Homo sapiens: one gene and its partners. The protein of the gene in region 4 purifies or fractionates together with the protein of the main gene of each other region. This does not show direct contact. Each region holds a gene or a part of one and is shown on either strand. Other genes may lie near its edges. The genes, in order: PGAP2, ZCCHC17, FAM83B, PFKFB2, POLDIP3, ZC3H11A and MOB2.

Evidence for each region.
Region 1: the proteins of PFKFB2 (region 4) and PGAP2 purify together in Homo sapiens (affinity purification with mass spectrometry; one large-scale study listed by BioGRID and IntAct). This does not show direct contact.
Region 2: the proteins of PFKFB2 (region 4) and ZCCHC17 purify together in Homo sapiens (affinity purification with mass spectrometry; one large-scale study listed by BioGRID and IntAct). This does not show direct contact.
Region 3: the proteins of PFKFB2 (region 4) and FAM83B purify together in Homo sapiens (affinity purification with mass spectrometry; one large-scale study listed by BioGRID and IntAct). This does not show direct contact.
Region 5: the proteins of PFKFB2 (region 4) and POLDIP3 purify together in Homo sapiens (affinity purification with mass spectrometry; one large-scale study listed by BioGRID and IntAct). This does not show direct contact.
Region 6: the proteins of PFKFB2 (region 4) and ZC3H11A purify together in Homo sapiens (affinity purification with mass spectrometry; one large-scale study listed by BioGRID and IntAct). This does not show direct contact.
Region 7: the proteins of PFKFB2 (region 4) and MOB2 purify together in Homo sapiens (affinity purification with mass spectrometry, with the first as the bait; one large-scale study listed by BioGRID). This does not show direct contact.

The regions. Positions count from the first base shown.
Region 1 is NC_000011.10:3,822,060-3,825,559, forward strand, and holds part of PGAP2 (acyltransferase PGAP2), read left to right. Parts: intron 1-849; coding exon of another isoform or gene 850-934; intron 935-1,553; coding exon of another isoform or gene 1,554-1,681; intron 1,682-1,823; coding exon 1,824-2,076; intron 2,077-2,210; coding exon 2,211-2,317; coding exon of another isoform or gene 2,318-2,396; intron 2,397-2,676; exon of another isoform or gene 2,677-2,960; coding exon 2,961-3,069; intron 3,070-3,268; coding exon 3,269-3,399; 3' UTR 3,400-3,500.
Region 2 is NC_000001.11:31,338,532-31,342,031, forward strand, and holds part of ZCCHC17 (zinc finger CCHC domain-containing protein 17), read left to right. Parts: intron 1-425; coding exon 426-517; intron 518-3,500.
Region 3 is NC_000006.12:54,940,771-54,943,184, forward strand, and holds part of FAM83B (protein FAM83B), read left to right. Parts: coding exon 1-1,237; 3' UTR 1,238-2,414. UniProt on the Homo sapiens protein: Probable proto-oncogene that functions in the epidermal growth factor receptor/EGFR signaling pathway. Activates both the EGFR itself and downstream RAS/MAPK and PI3K/AKT/TOR signaling cascades.
Region 4 is NC_000001.11:207,059,775-207,063,274, forward strand, and holds part of PFKFB2 (6-phosphofructo-2-kinase/fructose-2,6-bisphosphatase 2), read left to right. Parts: intron 1-1,137; exon of another isoform or gene 1,138-1,156; intron 1,157-2,178; coding exon 2,179-2,304; intron 2,305-2,845; coding exon 2,846-2,942; intron 2,943-3,368; coding exon 3,369-3,435; intron 3,436-3,500. UniProt on the Homo sapiens protein: Synthesis and degradation of fructose 2,6-bisphosphate.
Region 5 is NC_000022.11:42,612,084-42,616,019, reverse strand, and holds the start of POLDIP3 (polymerase delta-interacting protein 3), read left to right. Parts: upstream 1-1,136; 5' UTR 1,137-1,162; coding exon 1,163-1,221; intron 1,222-1,240; exon of another isoform or gene 1,241-3,936. UniProt on the Homo sapiens protein: Is involved in regulation of translation. Is preferentially associated with CBC-bound spliced mRNA-protein complexes during the pioneer round of mRNA translation. Contributes to enhanced translational efficiency of spliced over nonspliced mRNAs.
Region 6 is NC_000001.11:203,847,623-203,851,122, forward strand, and holds part of ZC3H11A (zinc finger CCCH domain-containing protein 11A), read left to right. Parts: coding exon 1-65; intron 66-708; coding exon 709-785; intron 786-2,088; coding exon 2,089-2,404; intron 2,405-2,892; coding exon 2,893-3,059; intron 3,060-3,434; coding exon 3,435-3,500. UniProt on the Homo sapiens protein: Through its association with TREX complex components, may participate in the export and post-transcriptional coordination of selected mRNA transcripts, including those required to maintain the metabolic processes in embryonic cells.
Region 7 is NC_000011.10:1,473,280-1,476,779, reverse strand, and holds part of MOB2 (MOB kinase activator 2), read left to right. Parts: intron 1-3,500. UniProt on the Homo sapiens protein: Stimulates the autophosphorylation and kinase activity of STK38 and STK38L.

The DNA of each region.
Region 1 (3,500 bases), on a different chromosome or scaffold from region 4:
AAAAACAAAAGCAAAAACAAAACGGCCGGGCGCAGTGGCTCACGTCTGTAATTCCAGCACTTTGGGAGGCCGAGGTGGGCGGATCACGAGGTCAGGAGATTGAGACCATCCTGGCTAACACGGTGAAACCCCGTCTCTACTAAAAATACAAAAAATTAGCCGGGCGTGGTGACGGGCGCCTGTAGTCCCAGCTACTCGGGAGGCTGAGGCAGGAGAATGGCGTGAACCCGGGAGGCGGAGCTTGCAGTGAGCCAAGATCGCGCCACTGCACTCCAGCCTAGGCGACAGTGTGAGACTCCGTCTCAAAAAGAGAAAAAAAAGCAGATTCTGGCCAAGCGAGGTGGCTCATGCCTGTAGTGCCAGCACTTTGGGAGGCCAAGGCAGATGGATAGCTTAAACCCAGGAGTTTGAGACCAGCATGGGACACATGACGAAACCCTGTCTCTACAAAAATTAGCCTGCTACTCAGGAGGCTGAAGTGAGAGGATCACCTGAGCCCAGGAGGTCAAGGCTGCAGTGAGTCATGATCATGCTATTGCACTCCAGCCTAGGCGACAGAGTGAGACCCTGTCTCAAAAAGGGGGAAAACAAAATTAAAAAATTAAAAAATGCAGATCCTCAGGTTCCAAGCCTTCTGCATTTTCAAACAATTCCCCCAGTGAGTTGTATGGGTAATTAAAGTTTGTGAAGCACTGCTCTAGGCCCTGGAGTCTAAGAGAGCCTCTTCCCATCTTTGGCTTTCCTGTCCCCATCTAAACCCTTGTTCAGTCATCCCCCATCCTTTCACCTCTCAAACAAGCAAGACACCAGTCCCTGCAGCTGTGTATTATCTTCTCCTTTTTCCTTAAGGACTGAAGCTTCAATAGGAGTTCCAGGCATTAAGATGGATGGTGGAGATGCACAAGAACATGGTCATTTCCTTAGACTACCCCAGGTTAGGAGCACCCACTTTCTTTTTTCTTTTCTTTTTTTTTTTTTTTTTTTTTTTTTTTTTTGAGACAGAGTCTCACTCTGTTGCCCAAGCTGGAGTGCAGTGGCACAATCTCGGCTCACTGCAAGCTCCGCTTCCCAGGTTCACACAGTTCTTCTGATCAGCCTCCTGAGTAGCTGGGACTACGGGCGCTGGCCACCACGCCTGGCTAATTTTTTTTTTTTAAGTAGGGACAGAGTTTTGCCATGTTGGCCAGGCTGGTCTTTAACTCCTGACCTCGGGTGATCCACCCACCTCGGCCTCCCAAAGTGCTGGGATTACAGATGTGAGCCATCGTGCCCAGCCCACCCACTTTGTTAATCATGATCAGAGCAGGGGTGCCATTCTACCACCTTGGCACACCTGCCTAGAGGAGTGAGTGGCGCTGGGAGCAGACTGAGGAACATCTTAGCTGAGCAGTGAATCCAGCACTGTTCTAAGGAAGCTCAGATGGTCTGTGACTCATCCCTGTCCTCTGGACTGAATCTGAGGCCTTGGAACTCACCCAGGGTCTTAGTGGAGGCACAGCTCTGAGCTATGGGTGTAGAGCATCTGAACCCATCTACACATTGACCAAACACAGGCAGGTTCCAGTCTGCGGGGGAGATGGAGAAGGTGCCACCATGCTGCTGCACAAATCCCAGGATAGCTGGGGAATGAGAATCCAGCACTTTGGGCCTAGGACCTGGAAGGAGAGGTCTTTTGGGAGAGGTATGGGGACATCTGAAGGAGGACTTCTTGGAAGGGGAGGGGCTGGAGCAGAGGCAAGAGTGATTTTGTCAGATGGAGAGAAGGTTCTCCACATGGGCGGGGCTGGCAGAGGCAGATGCCCAGACAGGTCACAACTCTCTAGGTGCCCAATTACCTGCCCTCGGTGAGCTCAGCCATCGGCGGGGAGGTGCCCCAGCGCTACGTGTGGCGTTTCTGCATCGGCCTGCACTCGGCGCCTCGCTTCTTGGTGGCCTTCGCCTACTGGAACCACTACCTCAGCTGCACCTCCCCGTGTTCCTGCTATCGCCCGCTCTGCCGCCTCAACTTCGGCCTCAATGTCGTGGAGAACCTCGCGTTGCTAGTGCTCACTTATGTCTCCTCCTCCGAGGACTTCAGTGGGTGCCTGGATGAGGGAGGAGTGGGGAAGTGTTCCCTGAGGGGACGGGCCTGCCCCTACCACATTCGGACCTTCCTACTTCGTGGTGTGGGCACTCCCTGCAATGTGGCTCCCAATCCTCTTTCCCTCCAGCCATCCACGAAAATGCTTTCATTGTGTTCATTGCCTCATCCCTCGGGCACATGCTCCTCACCTGCATTCTCTGGCGGTTGACCAAGAAGCACACAGTAAGTCAGGAGGTACGGTCTATCCCTAGCGGGGGCTCCAAGGCAGCCCAGAAGAAAATCAAGGACATCTGTCCTCAGGATTCGGGTAATGGTGAGGTGGGAACTGAGTTCTAATGGGAACCCTGGCAGAGGGGTGCTGGGGTTGGGGCTGGGGCTTGGGAACAAACTGAGGGTGGTTGGTCAGAATCTAGGACTATAGCACTGTGTTTGGGTAGTGTGGGAGACTGGAGAATAGAAGAGATGGAGGCTGCAAATGGGGATAGAATGAGGAGTCGCATCTAGGCGGCAGTGAGTTAGGAACAGTGTCAGAGGACTGGTCTGTCATAATTCCAGCGCCCCACCCATGTACATGGGTTTCTTTTCCCCCACAGTATTTGGAGGTGGGGTTGGTGGGTGACTCCATGTAACTTTCATACTCCATCCCCCTGAAGTGGAAGCGGCAGGAATACCACTGCTCCTCGGCCCATCACTCCCCCAGAGGCAGGGACGTGAACACATAGTCGTCATTCTTGCTGCCCCTGCCTGTGCTCCCTTCCATGACCGCTAGTGGGAGCCAAGGGAGATAAGGCCCAGCCCTTAGGAGTTAGGGCTGAGAGGGGAGCCCACGCTCTCATACCCAGCAAGCTGCAGAGTGATCAGACAGCCCATTCCCTAGGATCGCAAGTCCTACAGCTGGAAACAGCGGCTCTTCATCATCAACTTCATCTCCTTCTTCTCGGCGCTGGCTGTCTACTTTCGGCACAACATGTATTGTGAGGCTGGAGGTGAGGCCAGGATAGGATCCACAGGCGGTCATGAGTGGCTGCGGGGCAGCAATGATGTTTTTGATAATGGGCAATGGTCTTGGGGACTGGCTGCCATTGTGTTCTCTGTGGCAGACCAATGGTGGTGTGATTTATCAAGAGGCCTCTGAGCGGGTAGCTGGAAGTTCACCATGTCCTGTTCCTTGTGTCCTCACAACAGTGTACACCATCTTTGCCATCCTGGAGTACACTGTTGTCTTAACCAACATGGCGTTCCACATGACGGCCTGGTGGGACTTCGGGAACAAGGAGCTGCTCATAACCTCTCAGCCTGAGGAAAAGCGATTCTGAACCCTTCAGTCCTGCTTGGGAGGACGCAGCCCACTGCCCAGAAACAAGAAACACGATACCATTCTGGCCTTCCCCACCCCACATCCTCTCTTGGCCTTACT
Region 2 (3,500 bases), about 180 Mb from region 4:
CCAATGTGACAAATGTCTTCATGCTTAAAGAAGCTCTAGACCAAGTCCAGAAGGAGATCTAGTCTCTTGAAGTATTCAAAAACCTATTCTGGACTTAGGGATATCTCAACAAATCACTATGCTGAACTTACCTGGAAGAAAAACTTTTATTTTCTGCCTGGTTACTTCCACAAGCCATGGATTTTTTGAGCTACCATTTTTGTCTTTCCCTCAGAGGGACAAGAATGAGATTAAGACTGTTTCCTAAAATTCTTCTGCCACAGGGTCTACCTGTTATGCTTATTTGTATCTGCAATGTTCCTAGCACAGTACCTGGTCCATTAAAGAAGCTCAATGTTATGATGAAAACGTTGACTCTTAATTTTAGACTGGCCATCTAAATGATGTATTTAAAGTTTTTGGTGACTTTTTTTGGTCTCTTTCAGATGAAAAATGATAGAATAAAAGTATCCCTCTCCATGAAGGTTGTCAATCAAGGGACTGGGAAAGACCTTGATCCCAACAATGTTATCATTGAGTAAGTAAAAGGTTTGGAAAGGTGAAAATTCTTCTGCCTCCCAAATCATAAAATGGTTTAGTAAATCAGACTGAACTGGTAACTCTACCATTTATGGACTTTGTGATATTGATAAGTTACGTAACCTTTGCAATCTTTGGTTTTTAGAAATGTAAAATGAAGTTAGACCAGGCGTGGTGGCTCACGCCTGTAATCCCAACACTTTGGGAAGCCGAGGTGGGCGGATCACCTAAGAGGTCAGGAGTTTGAGACCAGCCTGGCCAACATGGCGAAACCCCGTCTCTACTAAAAATACAAAACTAGAAATTTGCTGGATGTGGTAGTGCGTGCCTCTAGTCCCAGCTACTCGGGAGACTGAGTCATGCACTAGAGTCTCTTGAACCCAGGAGGCAGAGGTTGCAGTGAGCTGAGATCATGCCACTGCACTCCAGCCTGGATGACAGAGTGAGACTCGGTCTCAAAAAATAAAATAAAGTAATAAAATAAAAATAGTTAACACCTTGCTGCATAGAGTTCTAAGATGAAACGTTAACGTACCAAGCTCCTGGCATTGGAGTGCTCCATCAATGGTTTTGTTTCCTTTCCCTTAATCTCTTTCTGTTTCTGCCCTTTAACGAGTTAGCTAATAAGCATTCATGAAGAACTATTCTTTACCTCTCTCCCAGTGATTTCTGCAGGTGGGGTTACGTGGGTCTCTTCCACATAGAGACCACGTGGAAGGGTAGAGTAATCCAGGAACAACTCCAGCGGGGTTTAGACTCCCACATCTTGGGATACACTGTGCTCTGAAAACAACATCTTACTTTCGTTGGCTCTTCTGACCTTTCATTTAGGAATGGGAAATTATCTATGTAGGACAATGTCTGGCAATACAAGGAATGTTCTGTCTGTCTCAAGTCTTTCTTGGATTTCTTTTTTTTTTTTTTTTTTTTTTTTGAGATGGGGTCGCCCAGGTTGGAGTGCAGTGCCATAATCACGGCTTACTGCAGTCTTGACCTCCCAAGCCCAAGCTATCCTCCCACCTCAGCCTACCGAGTAGCTGGGACTACAGGCATGCGCCACCACACCTAATTTTTATTTTGTAGAGACAGGGTCTCCCTATGTTGCCCAGGTTGTTCTTGGACACCTAGGCTCAAGCGATCCTCCCACCTTGGTCTCCTAAGTGCTGGGATTACAATTGTTAGCCACCATGCCCAGGCTTCTTTCTTAAATTTCTCATCGGAGGTTCTTGGATCCCTAAAGTCTCTTAAAGGGGGATCTTGGAGGGTTTTTTTTTTTTTTTTTTTTGAGACAAGTTTCACTCTTGTTGCCCAGGCCGGAGTGCAATGGCACAATCTCGGCTCACCGCAACCTCCGCCTCCCAGGTTCAAGTGATTCTCCTGCCTCAGCCTCCACAGTAGCTGGGATTACAGGCATGTGCCACCATGCCCGGCTAATTTTGTATTTTTAGTAGAGATGGGGTTTCTCTATGTTGGTCGGGCTGGTCTTGAACTCCCGACCTCAGGTGATCTGCCCGTCTCGGCCTCCCAAAGTGCTGGGATTACAGGCGCGAGCCACCGCGCCCGGCCCTTGGAGGGTTTATTAACTGTTTTTAGTGTTTTAGAAAGCCATCCAAAATTCTATGTGTGTCCTCAGGTTAACCATGCTGTTATTTTGTTGCTTTTGATGATAAAATATCACATTGTTTGTCTTATGTTAATTAGGTACGCTCAATGACAATTATGTCATTGATGAATTTAAAAGACAAGAAAAATGATAGAATGTTATTTGAGTGGGATCTTATTGGTGAAAAGTTTGGAAAGCCTTATGTTTATAGTTCTGAGCAAAATCACTTTGAATTTGAAGGAATTTTATCTGGAAGTAAGGGAAATGTTATTGAATACATACTGCAGTGCCAGGCATTTTATGTACATTCTTGGGTACATAACAACCTGCAAAGTGGATGTTATCTCCATTTTACCTTATATTCCTACTTTATAGCTTGGTGCCTGGTGATAAGTAACTTACCTGTGGTTACATAGAAAATTATCAGGGACTCAAAACTCAGTCTCTCTGACCTTAAAGCTAATGCCCTTTTCACCACAAAATGCTTCTCACTCTTGCATGTGACTTACAGAACTTTTCATATTTCTGTGGTTTAGTCTCTAAATATTAACATGTTTGTAAGGCTGATTATTGACAAAATACTGTCAGTAATAGTAGGAATCTTTTATAACTCAGAGTGCAGAAGTGTTTAAATCTGGCTGTGGTTCAAGTTAGTGTTGGGAAAAGGAAAAAGAAAAAATTCTGATGATTGCATTGTAATAAATAGCTTCTGCTCCAAAAAATCCAATGCTATATGGACTCATTAAAAAATAGTGAAATTTCCCAAAGCCACCCTTACAGTGATAAAATATAAAACATGTAAGATAAAAGAGCTAACCCTGTTTCTCAGAAAATGGGTAGGGAAGGGAAAGGGCTCCCTGGTTTTGGGCTGTCTCTGTGTAGAACTATTTTTAGTAATAATCAAGTGGCTGAAACAGTAACTTTTGTTGTAAATTATGTCTATAGCTGCATCCAGGAAGGAAGCATGGCATAATGGAATGATTAGAGGATTTAGAGCTAGACTTGAATCAGAAAGAGTACTGGTTCTGCTCCAAACTAATATATGACTTTGAGCAGATTAATTAGTCTATCTGAATCTTAGCTTCTTTACTATAAAAGGAGACAGTAACATATATCTAAGGAATGCTTGAGTGATTTAAGTAAAATCTTATTTGTAAGGAGCCAGCTTCATGTCTAGTCTATGGTAGACATACATGTAGCTACTTGTAGTTATTGTTTTAAATGCCGCTTTGTTTTATCCTCTAATATCTGAGATTATAGCACCTTTTCTTTTTTCCTCATACTATGGTGTACGGAACCACACCTTTGCTTTTGAAAGAGTGTGTGTGTAAGACCCACAAAAACAGAGACCATGACTTGTCTGCCATTGTGCCTGATG
Region 3 (2,414 bases), on a different chromosome or scaffold from region 4:
CAAGCTCCCATTGCAGTCAGAGGCACCAAAAATGCACACCTTGCAGGTTCCTGAAAACCACTCAGTAGCCTTAAACCAAACTACAAATGGCCATACTGAATCAAATAACTATATATATAAAACCTTGGGTGTAAATAAGCAGACAGAAAATCTAAAGAATCAACAGACTGAGAATCTACTTAAAAGGCGAAGTTTCCCGTTATTTGACAACTCAAAAGCCAACTTAGATCCTGGAAATAGTAAGCATTATGTATATAGTACACTTACCAGGAATCGAGTTAGACAACCAGAAAAGCCCAAAGAAGATTTGCTGAAAAGTTCTAAAAGCATGCACAATGTGACTCATAACTTGGAGGAGGATGAGGAGGAAGTTACCAAGAGAAACTCTCCAAGTGGCACTACTACCAAATCAGTTTCCATTGCTGCTTTACTTGATGTGAATAAAGAGGAATCTAACAAAGAACTTGCTTCAAAGAAGGAAGTTAAGGGTTCCCCAAGTTTTTTGAAAAAGGGGTCTCAGAAGTTAAGGTCATTACTTAGCCTTACCCCAGATAAGAAAGAAAATCTATCCAAAAATAAAGCACCTGCCTTTTATAGATTGTGTAGTAGCTCTGACACATTAGTTTCTGAGGGTGAAGAAAATCAAAAACCAAAGAAATCAGACACAAAAGTTGATTCATCTCCTAGAAGAAAGCATTCTTCCTCATCGAATTCTCAAGGCAGCATCCACAAGAGTAAGGAAGATGTAACAGTTAGCCCATCTCAAGAGATAAATGCTCCACCAGATGAAAATAAAAGAACACCTTCTCCAGGTCCAGTTGAAAGCAAGTTCTTGGAAAGGGCAGGAGATGCCTCTGCCCCAAGATTTAACACTGAACAGATCCAATACCGAGATTCAAGGGAGATTAATGCAGTTGTTACCCCTGAAAGAAGACCTACTTCTTCTCCAAGGCCAACGTCCAGTGAGCTTCTACGATCTCATTCAACTGATCGGCGTGTTTACAGTCGTTTTGAGCCGTTTTGTAAGATTGAGAGCTCTATTCAGCCAACAAGCAACATGCCAAATACCAGTATAAATCGCCCAGAAATAAAATCTGCGACTATGGGCAACAGTTATGGCAGGTCTAGTCCATTGCTTAATTACAACACTGGTGTTTATCGCTCATATCAACCCAATGAGAACAAGTTTCGAGGATTTATGCAAAAGTTTGGAAACTTTATACACAAAAATAAATAGCTATTAAAATGCAAAATGAATGAGGCTATCAATATTTGTCCAAAGAAAATTGTGGACAGTCTTTGTAACATGCCAATAGATTTTCCTAAGGACAGAATTATGGGTATGATGTATATGTTCACCAGTGTCCTAGTATAAAGTTATTTTTCTGTGTGATAAAGTTAGGGTCTGCTGTAGATAGAATTTCTCTGTAAACACATTATTTGTAAGTGGTAATGGTAAAAATAATAGATGTATTTAAATCATTTTCTTTAGACTGAAGATTTTAAGTCTCACTTAGAAATTTTTGTGGACGATGTATGGTGTATGGTGTATGGTGTATGGATTTTAACCATTTCCTTTTAAAAAGGTCATACTACCCTCAGTAACCCTTTATAACATGTGTTTATAGTGTTTTCATATCTTCAAAAATATAAGCAAATGGGACAAAGCCCTTTTTTAAGATTAACTTGAAGTTCTACGGGATAACTTGTTATATTTTATTAATATTATTTTTTCTGTGGATCATTGTACAGCTGTTTGGGCAACAGCAGTACCTTTTACATTTTTTATTTTTTATTTTTTTTTCTGCCTGAAGTGTTTGCAAAGTATCAGCCTCATGTAGTATAATGACATTCGTAGGAATTTATTTTCCTCAGCCTTTGAAAACGGTCTGGGATGTGCTTCTTTCTACACTGGACCCAGGGAGCTGTCCCCCTCTTACCCATAGGCTGCTGATTTTTTATAGTCATTCCTTACTTCACATTTAGGACAAACCAGTAGGAATTTAGAAAATCTGAATGATTCCCCCTCCTTTTTCTATTGTATAAAAGCTTTTAGAAATGTAAATTTCTGCCTAAATTTTTGTTAGATTGGCATGACAATGCTAAGGGGTCTTGCTTGCGAAAATTCTTGCTCTTTTTTTTTTTCTTTTGAGATGGAGTCTCGCTCTGTCACCCAGGCTAGAGTGCAGTGGCGCAATCTTGGCTCACTGCAACCTCTGCCTCCCAAGTTCAAACGATTCTCCTGCCTCAGCCTCCTGAGTAGCTGGGATTACAGGTGCGCACCACCACACCCGGCTAATTTTTGTATTTTCAGAAGAGATGGGATTTCACCATGTTGGCCAGTCTAGTCTCAAACTCCTGACCTCGTGATCCTCCCGCCTCGGCCTCCCAGAGTGCTGGGATTACAGGTCTTG
Region 4 (3,500 bases):
CTGGGCCCCTCCTCCCACTTCTCCATTGAGATCTTTCTACATTTATTTCTCAAAAAATGAAAGTCATATTTCCCATCCAAGTACCTCCATTTTACAGAACTGTTTCTTAATCTTACAAGGTCCCTTAGTACCAGGCAGAGGGGCAGCCGCAACTTGCAGGGCACCTTCTGGGAAGCAGTGGTGGGAAGTGGGAGGTGAAGGTGTTTCTTCCTTTTTCCCCCATCCTGTGCAGGGCCTTCCCTCATTGGAGCCGGCAGAGCCTGAGCTATCCCAGATGACCTCAGTGTGGTTTTTGGCCCCGGGACAGTGGCTGGCAGCAGTTCAGGTCCTTCTCCCACCTCTCCTCTGCAGCAAGATGGGCCGGGAGGAGCCAGCCCCTGTGAGCAAAGTGATGAGGAACCTCTTTTTATGGAGAAAAGCTGCAAGGAAGCACAAGATCTGTGTTCTAGTGCCAGCTGTACCCTTGACTCATTATGTGTCCCTAGACAAGTCACCTGTCCCCTGAACATGTAGTTTGCCCTGCCTGTCCAGTGAGACTTATCTCTGCAAATGAGCATTCCTGAAGTAAGTTAATTTACTAAGGAAGGGTAGACTGAGGACTGTTAATGCTTCTCAATTGTCTTGCTTTTACGTGGGCCATGGTGGCAGATTGGCCCTGATGCCCTTTGTGGGCTGGCTCTACCCTGAAGCTTCCTGAGGTCTATTCAGAATGTGTATCAAGTAAGCTTTGCCAACTCAATCTCACTATGGTTTAGAAATTCTGGCTTAAAGAGGAGCTCATGACCTGAGTGAAAAGGCCAAAACAGCTTGAGGCAGGGCTTTTTGCAGTGGGCAAGCTAATTCTTGCCCATGGTTCTGAAGGGATGAGTGGGATCCTGGAGACAGAAACTCTGTTGGACCTATTATAGGAGCCAGCTCAGTTCTGCACTGGTAGAATCTCCAAGCATTAGACCTTCCTTCACAGCTCTGTCATTTTTATATTTCTAGGCATTCTTATGTTAAGGATGATGTCATTGTTACTTTTCTTTCTTTCTTTCTTTTTTTGAGACGAAGTCTTGCTCTGTCGCCCAGGCTGGAGTGCAGTGACGGGATCATGGCTCACTGCAACCTTGAACTCCTGAGCTCAAGCAATCCTCCTGAGTAGCTGGGACTATAGGTGCACACTCCCACATCTGGCTAAGTTAAATATATATATCTATATATCTATATATCTATATATATCTATATCTTAAATATTATATATTTAAGATATATATAAATATCTTAAATATATATATTTTATATATATCTTTATATATATCTTTATATATCTTTATATATATCTTTATATATATCTATATATCTTTATATATATCTTTATATATATCTTTATATATATTTATATATATCTTTATATATATATATATATATATATATATATATATATATTTTAAGAGACAAGGGTCTCTCTATGTTGCCCAGGCTTATCTTGAACTCCTGGCCTCAAGTGATCCTCCCACCTCATTCTCCCAAATTGATGGGATTACAGGCATGAGCTGTCATGTCTGGCTGCAGCATGGTTATTTTCTTTCTTAGCCTTGCTACTTTTTTCCTCTTTCCACCTTGGGTACTGCAGTGAAGACCTCAGACATGTGGGAAAGACGTATCTTGGTTTGGGCATTTTCTGGAAGCCTGCATAACCTTTTAACTCTATTTCAGGAGGCCTGCCTGATATCTCCTTATTTGTCTTCCCAGACTTGCTGAACCTTTGCTCCACAGGTTTATGAAGATAAAATGAGATTATGACTATGAAGTTCGTAGCTCAGTGTATAAACCTTACTAGACCCCAGCGGGGCTGGGCGCCTCACGCCTGTAATCCCAGCACTTTGGGAGGCTGAGGTGGGTGGATCATGAGGTCAAGAAATTGAGACCATCCTGGCCAACATGGTGAAACCCCATCTCTACTGAAAATACAAAAATTAGCTGGGCATGGTGGAGGGCGCCTGTAGTCCCAGGTATTCGGAAGGCTGAGGCGGGAGAATCACTTGAACCTGGGAGGCGGAGGTTGCAATGAGCTGAGATCACGCCACTGTACTCCAGCCTGGTGACAGAGTGAGACTCCGTCTCAAAAAAACAAACACCAAAAAACCTTACTAGGACTCTAGTCATTTCGTTTTATTTTGTTTCATTTCCTTCTAGCATGGGCCTCCTACATGACCAACTCCCCGACTCTGATCGTTATGATTGGTTTGCCAGCCCGGGGTAAAACCTACGTGTCCAAGAAACTAACACGCTACCTCAACTGGATTGGAGTCCCCACCAAAGGTAAGTGTGGCTCATTCCCTAGGAAAGACAATTATTAGTTCCTGGGCCTCACAGGTCTCTGGGAGACTTATTCTTCCTGGCATCAATGCTATAGGGTGCTTTTGGCAGAAATAGCAGTTGCTTTCTGGTTTACTGGAGTTATTCTCTATTCCCAGACTTGTCTCCTCCTGGCGTGGGTGGATTGGCCTAGTTTTGAGGGAATGCCTTTGATAGGACTGTTAAGATTTAGATGAGCATAGGGCTGTACCTTTTCAGAAGCCTTACATGGACATCATCTTATATAACCCTAGCAGTGTCTCTGTGAAATAGACAGAGTGGCTGAGGAAATTGAAACCTCAGACAGCTTAAGACTTGTCCAAGGTCTAGAAAGTCAGGGCTTGAACCCAACTCTTTTGACTCTTAATCTGATATTGTTCCCAACCTACCATGCTGCCGCTTTTTTCATCCCCTTGGTCACTCCGACATTAGGCCAAGAAACAAGTCCCATTTGGTGGGGCCATCATATTATTTTGCTGCTGAAGGATTTGGGTGTCTTCTACAGTGTTTAATCTTGGGGTGTATCGGCGTGAAGCAGTCAAGTCCTATAAGTCCTACGACTTCTTTCGGCATGACAATGAGGAGGCCATGAAGATCCGCAAGTGAGTCTTGTTTAAGGCCTGATCTCCAGGTCAGCTCTTTCTTGGCCGTCATGAGACTTGGTGTGACAGGGCTTGGTTTCATCTCAGTAAATATCTTAAGGGGAAGTTAAATGGAAGTTATCTGATGGGCAAGTGACCTTGGGCTTGGGTGGTCAGAAGAACAGGGCTCAGGGTGATTGATACCTGTGTGCTTGTAGGAGAAGTCTAAAGAGGGCTAAGATCTGTGCATTGGGGCAGGGGCAGGAAGGGGTTATAGGATGGTGTGAAAACCCTCAGTGAGAAAGTTGAAAGATCTAGTTAGAGAAAGGTTTTGAACAGTGGGAAACTAAGTGGGCAGGGATGTGACTTCTGTAGCCACCCGAATGTTTGTGTCTCTGACTGTTTGAGCTTAGCTCTCCTTGCTGGTTTCATTTGCTCTTATGGCAGACAGTGTGCTCTGGTGGCGCTGGAAGATGTTAAGGCGTATCTCACTGAGGAGAATGGTCAGATTGCGGTAAGCTTTATCTGCTGCTTCTTCTTTCTGGTCCCCACCCTTGCAGCAGCCTGGCTACCCAGCCC
Region 5 (3,936 bases), on a different chromosome or scaffold from region 4:
GCCACCGCTCCTGGCCTCTTACCCAGTTTCTGCACGGAGCTCCTGATGCCTGATGGCCAAGAGGACATAACCCCACCTGTTCTAAGGGCATGGAGTGTATTTTTAGAGTGATTGGACAAAATATGTGCCGAACACCTACGTCAGGTCTGGCGCATGCTGGAGGCTGGGGTTATATCAATGCAAAAGCCATTCCCTGTATTTAACACGTAAATGAATTAGTCTCTTTAACTCTCCCAACGCCCTATAAATTATTTGCTCCATTTTACATATTAAACGCTGTCACGAACTGAGCTGCTGTGTGAGGCCGGGGCCGGACTTATCTTTCTGAAGCACAGAGAAGCGGTTATACGCAGAAGTTTGGGAGAACTGGGTAAGGCCGCACACATGGAAATTGCCAGTTTCGTGGGTCCCAACGTCAATACTGTGGGCAACCTTAGACCGGCTCAAAGCGCAGCTGGGGACGGTGATGAAGTGCAGAGCGTCCACAGCCAGCGACAAGACTGCCAAGCAACTGGCAGCCTGAGTAACGGAGAAAACAACGAAAAAAACGCATTCACCACCTACCAACAAGAAACAAAAAACACGACCACCCCACAGTCAGTCTACTTTTTAGGCGTGAATAAGGTCGGGCAGATCGCAACTCCCAGGCATCCCGCAAAGTAGGCGGGTCACCTTGAGGGCGACCTTTACCCGCTCAAAAATTCGTCTCACATTAGCAGTGAGGATTCGGGCGTCACCCCGAATCGTTATTTTCCTTACTCATAAGTTTAAGGCATAAGGACGTTTTTAGTTTATTTCCTAGGTAATGAATTCTATTCTCATTAGGCGTATGATGACTATCGTAGTTGACTGTTGAGGTCATGATCCAGTTCCATTGAAGTTTGTCTCACTTGTTAATAATGTATTTTGTTGCTTTTCATTTAATTTTTTCCCTCGAGGAAAATAAATAATTCATAATGTGCCGAACTTCCGTATGCAGATGAGCAGCCAGCACCGCGAAGGCTCACGGGGAACGTCCCCGCCCCTTCCGGTTCTTGCCTGCTTTGAGCTGGCTGTCGCGAGAGTTGGTCCGCGGACGCCGGAAGTAGTTCGTCGCTCCCTAGCGGCCGAAGGGGCGGGCTCGCGGGGTCTCGACTGCTTTCGGCTTGCTCGGCGGAGCAAGATGGCGGACATCTCCCTGGACGAACTCATCAGGAAGCGCGGGGCGGCGGCGAAAGGACGGTGAGAGGCCTTTCCTTTCTTCGGGGTTTAGGGTCCTCGGCCTAGTGGAGCTCGAGGCGGGGGAGGTAGCGATCCGGGAGCGACGCGGAGGACCGGGTGCGCCCGCCCCCGACCACAGCCGCGCTCCTCATTGGCCGGCTGCCGCCGTCCCCGCCGTGGCCCCGACCGCCCGCCCACTGGCCGAGGCGCAGTCCCTCTGGCGGCCCTGGGAGGCCGACGGGGCCGCGGCGGGGACAGGGTGCCGCCTCGTGGACCTGAGGGGCTGCCCCCTGGGGCCCCCGCGTTCCGGGGTCCTGGGGTCTCGGCGGCGCAGCCTCCTTGCCTGTGTGGACTGGCATTTGGGCCCCGCTCCGTGATCTCGGCGCTGCCTGGTCTCCACCCATCTTAGAGTTGAGACAACCGAAGTTTAGTAGCGGGGAAGTGACTTGCTCCGACCGCCGAAGCTGAGGCGCAAGCCCAAATCCCCCTGCACGCGGCCCCTGTTAACACTCGCCTCTCTTTGTGCGGCGTTTTAAGTTTTCTGAGCCCTTTCATATACACGATGCCTCATTTAATCTTTTACAGTCCTGTTGTCTGCTAGCTATTCATGTTACCCACCTTTTACTGATGGGGAACTTGAGGCTGGAAGTGGTAGAGTGACTTGCCCGAGGCCACGGAGAACTGAGCGGCGGGCTGAGCGCGATTTAATTGCTGGCTGAGTTGGCCTCCTACATGGGCTTGAAAAACTGGTGTGTTGGGCAGGAGATTGGTTATTTCCTTAGGGAGAAGAAAGTGCTTGAGCTGGCTGAGGAGCCATGGAGGTGATTTGCAGTCATGTCTCCCAAACTTCCCCTAGACCCTTAAATGTTGTTAGTCATTTCAAGCCTTCGTGAGCTGAGTTCATCTGTATGAAGAAGTGAGAACTTTGCCCAATAGTTTCCCAACACACATTAAGTTTAAATGTCTTTGTAAATAGCCAGGATGTAAATATGTTAGATATTGTTTTCTCAGACATTTGTTCTCTCAGCAGATGTTTATTTTTATTTTTATGTTTTTTTTGAGACGGGGTGTTGCTCTGTCGCCCAGGCTGGAGTGCAGTGGTGCCATCTCGGCTCACTGCAACCTCCGCCTCCCCGGTTCCAGCGATTCTCCTGCCTCAGCCTCCCAAGTAGCAGGGACTACAGGTGTGCACCACCACGCCCGGCTAATTTTTGTATTTTTAGTAGAGATGGAAGTTTCACTGTGTTGGTCAGGCTGGTTTCGAACTCCTGACCTCAGGTGATCCTCCCGCCTCGGCCTCCTAAAGTGCTGGGATTACAGGCGTGAGCCACCGGCCCGGCCATTCCGCAGATGTTTATTAATACCACCCGTATGCCTGTGGTTAGGTTTTTCTCTTGATGTCTGAAATGTATCCCTCACCTCCTTCCCCATCCTGGACACTTGTATCAACTACAACTGCCACCACCACCTCATAATTCGCAGCCAGCACTTACCTGGCTTGTGGTTCGTAACGGGCACACATTAGTATTTGTTTCCTCAACTACTGACTGTGAAAGCTCTCTCAGATCTCCATCTAGTGACTGATGTGAAGCTGGTGCTGGCTCCTCTGGCCACTTCTAAGTCCATCCACGTTTTGTAGGTTCCTTTGGAAACGACAGAATGATCCACCCCAGGTTCTTCTCTCTCTGAGGTCACTCCGCCAGTTTCTGACTGCAGGTGGACTGCACTGTAGTCTATTTGATCTCTATGTTTTTGGTTTTAGTGTGTGCAGAGTTTTGTGTTGGGCAGTAGGTGGGGCTGCAGGAATGGGGGGTGGTTATGTGTGGATCCACAGGAACAGGGGCCTTGCAGCTGGATACACCTGGCACTTGCCACTGTTGGGTTCTGTTTCCCTGGCCAGGGGAGTTCTGAACTAGGCAGTTTCCTCACTTGGAATGGTGATTCCTGGTTGAGCGGGATTAAATGTGAGAAGGGTTTTTTTTGTTTGTTTTTTTGAGAGGGAGTCTCACTGTATTGCTCAGGCTGGAGTGCAGTGGCACAGCCTTGGCACACTGCAACCTCTGCCTCTTGGGTTTAAGTGATTCTCCTGTCTCAGCCTCCCAAGTAGCTGGGATTACAGGTGCCCGACACCACGACTGTCTAATTTTTGTATTTTTAGTAGAGATGGGGTTTTACCATGTTGGCCAGGCTGGTCTCGAACTCCTCACCTCAGGCCGAACCCGCTCGGCCTCCCAAAGTCCTGGGATTACAAGCATGAGACACTGCGCCGGGCCAGAAGGTATGTTTTAAAGTTTGTGCCATGTGGCAAGTGTTCAGCAAAGGCTGGTAATTATCTTGGACCTTTCCTTAAAGGCATAGAAGCACACAACGCCCCTGGAGCATAGGTGAGCACTGGGACTCTAGACGCAGACCACCAAGCTTCCAATCCCTGCTTCTCCCACTTTCCCTAGGACCGTCTGCAAGTTACTTAACCATTCCTTGCCTTTCTTTCCTTATGTATAAAACCTGAGTAATATCTACTTTATTAGGTTATTGTTAGGACTGAGTGAATTAATATACCTGAAGTGCATTGAAAAGTTCCTGACAACGGGTACTTAAGTGCTTGATAGACGTTAGCTTTCGTTATTGTCATTGAAGGCTTCTTAAAGTAAAGGAGTAACATGATTCAATTTTTAGCTTGAAAATATTTCTTTGCCATTGTATGGGGATTGGATTGGGGCAAAGAGTGCAGGCAGA
Region 6 (3,500 bases), 3.2 Mb from region 4:
CTCCCCGTCTCAACACGAGGCCACTCCAGGGGCAAGGCGGCTGCTGCGAATCACCAAAAGAACAGGTAACAAGAGAACTTGGTCTCTAGTACCACGTCCCCACATAATATTCCAGAGGAGTGTTCCGTGGGATCTTCCTAGGAGTTGTTTGACAACCTTTCTTTACTCAGATAACGTTGAAAACACTGAATTAAATGAAGTTTTTCAGTAGTGCTATGTAGACCTATGCTATTTTGTTTTATTTTATTTTTGAGACAGAGTCTCACTCTGTCACCCAGGCTGCAGTGCAGTGGCATGACCTTGGCTCACTGTAGCCTCCACCTCCTAGGTTCAAGTGATTCTCCTGCCTCAGCCTCCCAAGTAGCTGGGGCTACAGACATGTGCCACCACACCCCGCTAATTTTTGTATTTTTAATAGAGATGGGGTTTCAGCATGTTGGCCAGGCTGGTCTCAAACTCCTCACCTCAAGTGTGATCTGCTTGCTTCAGTCTCCCAAAGTGCTGGGGTTACAGGTGTGAGCCACCATGCCCGGCCAACCTTTGCTATTTTAATGTGTATTTTGAGACTTTAGGAGCACAGATGGGCTTTATCTGTAATTTTATTTGTCCTGTCTTACTACTTTCATTAAATAAAGTTTTGTTTAACATATCTATCATGAAGTTGCAGCTTAAATAAAATAACTAATGATGTCTTTAATGTGAATACAGGGATGAAAGAAGAGAAGAACCTTCAGGAAGGAAATGAAGTTGATTCTCAGAGCAGTATTAGAACAGAAGCTAAAGAGGTAAATTTAAGATTATTGTATGGTTTTGTTCATGGCAAACAAAGGCTAGATAATTGGTAGTTTTACCTTACAATAAATTTCTAAGTACTTCATTCATATATTAGGTAAACAGTCTTTCTTTTTACTTATAATTTCTTATGAGAATTTCCTGTAGTTCTATGTATATCAGTATTCGCTGCCCTTTTAAAGTTTTTTGTTTGCCGGGCGCGGTGGCTCACGCCTGTAATCCCAGCACTTTGGGAGGCTGAGGCGGGCGGATCACGAGGTCAGGAGATTGAGACCGTCCTGGCTAACACGGTGAAACCCCGTCTCTACTAAAAATACAAAAAATAAAGTTTTTTGTTTAATTGGCCATTACTTTTTTTTAACTGAGTTTTTTCTAATGCTATGCATCATACAAAAGTTGGAAATTTTATTTTTTTTAAAACTGAACAAACCCTAAAAATATACAGCTCAGATGTAACCATCATTATCTTTTCCATGGATTTCTTCGAGCTTTTTCAGTCTTGCTCTGTTGCCCAGGCTGGAGTGCAGTGGCATGATCTCGGTTCACTGCAACCTTTGCCTCCTGGGTTCAAGCGATTCTTGTGCCTCAGCCTCCCATGTAGCTGGGATCAAAGGCATGCACCACCAAGCCTGACTAATTTTTGTATTTTTAGTAGAGACAGAGTTTCTCCATGTTGTCCAGAGTGGTCTCGAACTTCTGGCTTCAAGTGATCTGCCTGCCTTGGCCTCCCAACGTGTTGGGATTACATGTGTGAGCCACCACACTTGGCCTTCTTCGACCTTTTTGTTTATATATGCATGCATGTGAATTTGTTTAATGTTAAACCCATGTTTAGAACATAATGGAGAACTCTACAGTGTATCATTTTACAGCCTGCTTTAACTTTACCATGTTAATAATTCTTCAAGAAGTTTGTTTTTACTGACCACATGATTCTCCATTATACAAATACAGTCTTTTTCTGGACATTCAGATTTTGTTTTACACAATTTAAAGTAATATATTTGTACATAAATCTTTGTGCAGGTATTTGATTATTTAGGAATCATTAGTATTTGACTTAGAGTCATGGTTGTCTAGCCTGTGGAATCTGGGTTTTTTATTATTCCATACATCTGTAATTCTAATCTTTCATCTTTAACAGGGTATTGTCTATTTAACATCAAATAAAGAGCTTTTCTCTCAGATTCTGGATCATGTGAGATTCTGCTTAACTTAGATGTTAGCCTGGTACTTACATCATACAGGTTATTAGAGGTACCAGATTTTAATTCTGTCATTCAAATTTATCCACAGGCTTCAGGTGAGACCACAGGAGTTGACATCACTAAAATTCAAGTCAAGAGATGTGAGACCATGAGAGAGAAGCACATGCAGAAACAGCAGGAGAGGGAAAAATCAGTCTTGACACCTCTTCGGGGAGATGTAGCCTCTTGCAATACCCAAGTGGCAGAGAAACCAGTGCTCACTGCTGTGCCAGGAATCACACGGCACCTGACCAAGCGGCTTCCCACAAAGTCATCCCAGAAGGTGGAGGTAGAAACCTCAGGGATTGGAGACTCATTATTGAATGTGAAATGTGCAGCACAGACCTTGGAAAAAAGGGGTAAAGGCAAGTATTTCTATACTGTGTATTGCTTTAGGTTATCAAAATTACCAAATTCAACCCAATTGTTGCCAGTAACTTCCTGGCAACAATTGGGTTGAATTTCATTTGCCTTCTATCCACAGGTAGATAGTAATATTTCTGATATTTTTATACAGAGGCAAAACGAGATGAATTCTTTTCTCAGAATTTAAAATTGCTATTTAAAAAGCTTTGTGTAAAACTTTCTATGGTGCATCTTTCCTCTGGTATTGAATAAAAACAAGGAATAGAGGAATGGTAACAAATTTAAGTGGTATTGTATCTACATGGTGACCACCTGTAGTGACCACCATGTGACCACAAATTGCCTTTGAATCGTTTTCAGTCTCTTTTTAAATGAATTATTTGTGGTATTTCTAGTACTGAAGGAGTTTTGATATTTTATTCTGAATTATTCCCCATTTAAAAGAGTCTATTCTCACTGCTTATCAGATATTTTCTGCCCTTTGTAGCTAAACCCAAAGTGAACGTGAAGCCATCTGTGGTTAAAGTTGTGTCATCCCCCAAATTGGCCCCAAAACGTAAGGCAGTGGAGATGCACGCTGCTGTCATTGCCGCTGTGAAGCCACTCAGCTCCAGCAGTGTCCTACAGGAACCCCCAGCCAAAAAGGCAGCTGTGGTAAGAAGTATATTCACTTTGTGGTGCTTTATTCTGTGTGGTAGGAAAGCAGGAAAGACTAACTCTCCACTAGCATTCTATCTTGAGTATATCACTTCCTGGCATTTCCTAGCATTTTAGTAATTTGGGTTACTACTGTATTTTATACTTACAGTTTGATATTTGTGAAGTAGCAGGACAGGATTTTTTAAAAGCTAATTTTTAGGTGGCAAGATATTTTGCTTATTTATATACTCAACCTTTAGATTATCGATTCTTAGATTCACAGGCTTAAAGAATCATAGCCACAATTCTAAGAAGGCAGCAAAAGAAAATGAATATGCTCAAATTAAAAAGCCTGACTCTCACTGAATTACCTGACTCTTCCTTTTGTAGGCTGTTGTCCCGCTTGTCTCTGAGGACAAATCAGTCACTGTGCCTGAAGCAGAAAATCCTAGAGAC
Region 7 (3,500 bases), on a different chromosome or scaffold from region 4:
CAGAATTTGTGAGACATAACTCAAGCAGTGCCTAGAGGGGATTTATAGGATTAATGCTTTCTTAGAAAAAGAAGATGACTTTCAGTAATCTACGTTTCCAACTTAAACTAGAAAAAGAGCAAAATAAGTCAAAATCAAGGACAAGAAAGTAAATAAGAACAGAAAGCACTGAGATTGATTTTTAAAACAATAGGGGAAATGAGTGAAATCAAAATGTGATGACTTTGAAAGGTAATAAATTGGTAAGCCTTTAGTAGGTACAAAGATAAGAGAGAAGATGCAATGATCAATAAAAAGGAGTGAGTGTCACTAAACCCTGTGGATGTAAAGAGGAGTATCACTGTAGACCCAGTGGATGTTAAAAGGATAATAAGGAAGTATTGGAAAAAAACCCTCTGTGCACATGAATTCTATGGCTTGGGTTAAATGGACCAACTCTTTGGAAAGCGCAGTATATCAGAACTCGCCTAAGATAGGCAGTGCCATAAGGTAAGAAGAAAGAATAAAAGGCATCCAAATTGGAAAAGAAATAAAACAATAAGCCCCCCTTATCTACAGTTTCCGTTACCCACAGTCAACTATGGTCTGAAAATAGTTAATGGAAAATTCCCGAAATAAACAGTTAATAAGTTTTCAACTGCATGCTGTTCTGAGCAGTGTGATGCGGTCTCCACCGTCCTGCTCCAGGTGTGCCTCCTCCTCCCTCGGCCCAGCTGTGCCTCGGCCCCCGTGTGGATCCACTGCCGCAGTGCCAGGGTGCTCGTGCTCAGGTTGCTCTTATGTGACATGAGGCGGCCCAAAGCGCAAGAGCGTGATGCTGGCAATTCAGATATGCCAAAGAGAAGACAGAAAGCACTTCCTTGACCTAAAGATGAAAAGGTGAAAGTTCCTGACTAGAAAGAAACAGATTGTGTGTGAGGTTGCTAAGATCTAAGGTAAGAACAAATCTCTTCTTTATGAAATTGTGAAAAAGGGAAAAAAAGTCCCTTTAATTTCGCTGTTACATCTGAAATTGCAAAAGTGACAGCCACAGTGCGTGTTGAGTACTTGGATCTGTGGGTGGAGGAGGTGAGAGGATGGGAGCAGCAGCGTGTTGCCATTGAGCCTGCAGGAGGCCAGCAAGGGACCCCCTGATATGCGACCCCAGCCACTCACTGCAACTGATTGTCCTCAGTTTATGAATTACACTGGGTGTGGTGGCTCACACCTGTAATCCTGGCTACTCAGGAGGCTGAGGCGGTGGATCACTTCAGGAGTTCGAGACTAACTTAGCAACACAGCGAGACCCTATCTCAGTCAATCAATCAAGTCTGCCTGTCTTTATTTTAGTAATGTATGTATAGGAGAAAGCGCAGCATATATAGGGTTTGGTGCTCTCTGTGGCTTCAGGCATCCCCTGGGGGTCTTGCAGTGCATCCCCTGTGGATGGGGGGGATTGCTGTATCCCTGTGCACACGTGTGATTGGGAAAACCTCAAGGATTGTAGCAAATAATAATATAAATTTAGTGAGGTCAACACGCACAAATCAGTCATAGGTCTGTATATTAGCAATGTGAAATTTAAAACTGAAATTAATATTTAACATGCCATTTATAATAGCTCCAAAAATAATGCGATCCTTAGTTATAAACTTAACAAGACATTCCCAGGATCTGCACCCTGGAAACTACGAAATGCTGTTACAGAAAATCGAAGGTCTACATAAATGGAGAGACGCACTGCGTTTATCACCTGGAAGATGACTCCAAACACAAATTCTCCCCCAAACTGATCTGTTGATTTAGTGCAGTCTCAATCCAAATCCCAGCAGAGTTCAAGTATAGACCAGTTAGTTCTAAAATTTATATGGAGGGACAAATTAACTGAAATAGCTACAATGATTTTGAAAAAATAAGAGGAATCTCACACTTTTGAGACTTACTGTGAAACTCTAGTAATTAAGACAGTGTGCAGTGTTGAAGGAATGGATACAGAGCTCCATGGAACACAGTAGAGTCCAGAGATAGCCCCACACAAACGTGTGGACGGAGAGTCCGGAGACAGCCCCACACAAACGTGTGGATGGAGAGTCCGGAGATAGACCCACACAAACGTGTGGATGGAGAGTCCGGAGACAGCCCCACACAAACGTGTGGATGGAGAGTCCGGAGATAGACCCACACAAACGGGGCCATCAGAGTTTTGACAAAGAGCAAAATAAATTCAAGGGAGAAAGGGTAGTCTGTTCAAAAATGCTGCTGGGAAAAGCAGTCATTTGTGTCAAAAACCAAACGCTGACCTATCCCTCATGCCTCGTGCAAACATCTAAAACTCCAAAGCTTTTGGAAGAAACCATAGGAAATCCTTATGACCTGACACTAGGCAGCAAAATTCAGAACTTTTGCTTCAAGACACTTTTAAGAGAAAGAAGACAAACTCCAGGCTGGGAGAGAAAACATTTGCAAATCACACATCCCACAAAGGACTGATATCCAGAATACATAAAGAACATACACAACTCAGCAGTAAGAAAACAAAACAGTCCAGTTAACTGTCAGCAAAAGAAATGAGCAGACAGTTTGCCAAAGAGGGTGTAAGGATGGCAGCTGGGGCTATCCTGTGTTGTTAGCAATTAGAGAAAGGCAAGCCGAAACCATGGGCAGACCCATGTCCACCTGCCCACATGCCGGTCGGGACACTGGTGCTGGCCAGGATGTGGCCACCTGGGACTCTGTTCTGCTGGCAGGGACACAGGTGAATAGATGAGCACGCCATGTCCATCTCTGCAGGGGCAGTGTCTGGGCAGTGAGGAGCCGTGGACTTCCGACACGTCTGCCACGTGACTGCATCCCAGGGGCCTCCGTGCAAGAGGGGCCCAGATCGGGAGGATCCGCGCGGTGCGATTCCTTCCCGCGGCCCATCCCTGAGGAGCCATCCCCGGGGTGCTGGGGGCACAGCAGCACGGGTGTGAGGGGCCACGTAAGCCGCCGCGTGTCCTGATTGTGGTTATGAATGCGTGAGTCCACATGTGGATAAAAATCTTAGAACTATATACCAGAAACGGTTTACTGATAATTGAAGAAGTACAGGAAACAGTGGTGTTCCATCTTTCAGAACAGATGGGACAATCCACAGTGTCCCTGAGTTACTGCTTTCTCTGGGTTTGCATTGTGGAAAAGGGTTTCCGTCTCTAACCTCCACTGTTTTGAGACCTGTCGCACACCTGTGGCCAGGTGCATCAGATGTCAGCTTGCAGTGTCAGGGTACCTGGAGCCAGTGTCTGACTCCTGCAGAGTGCTGAGCCATCCTGGCTGGGTCCTCGCCCTGGAAACATGGGCCTCAGCCTGGCCCTTAGGGGCTGGGCCTCCCCTACACCATCTGGGAACCCCAGGACAGTGGGGATACGTGCGTCCTCTACATCATTCTCGAGGAGCAGATGCTGAAAGGACTGTTGTCTCTGCATTCTCAGAGGGTCTGACAGCCTGGTGGCGATGCCCACGGTGAGGCCTGCAGCCTGGGA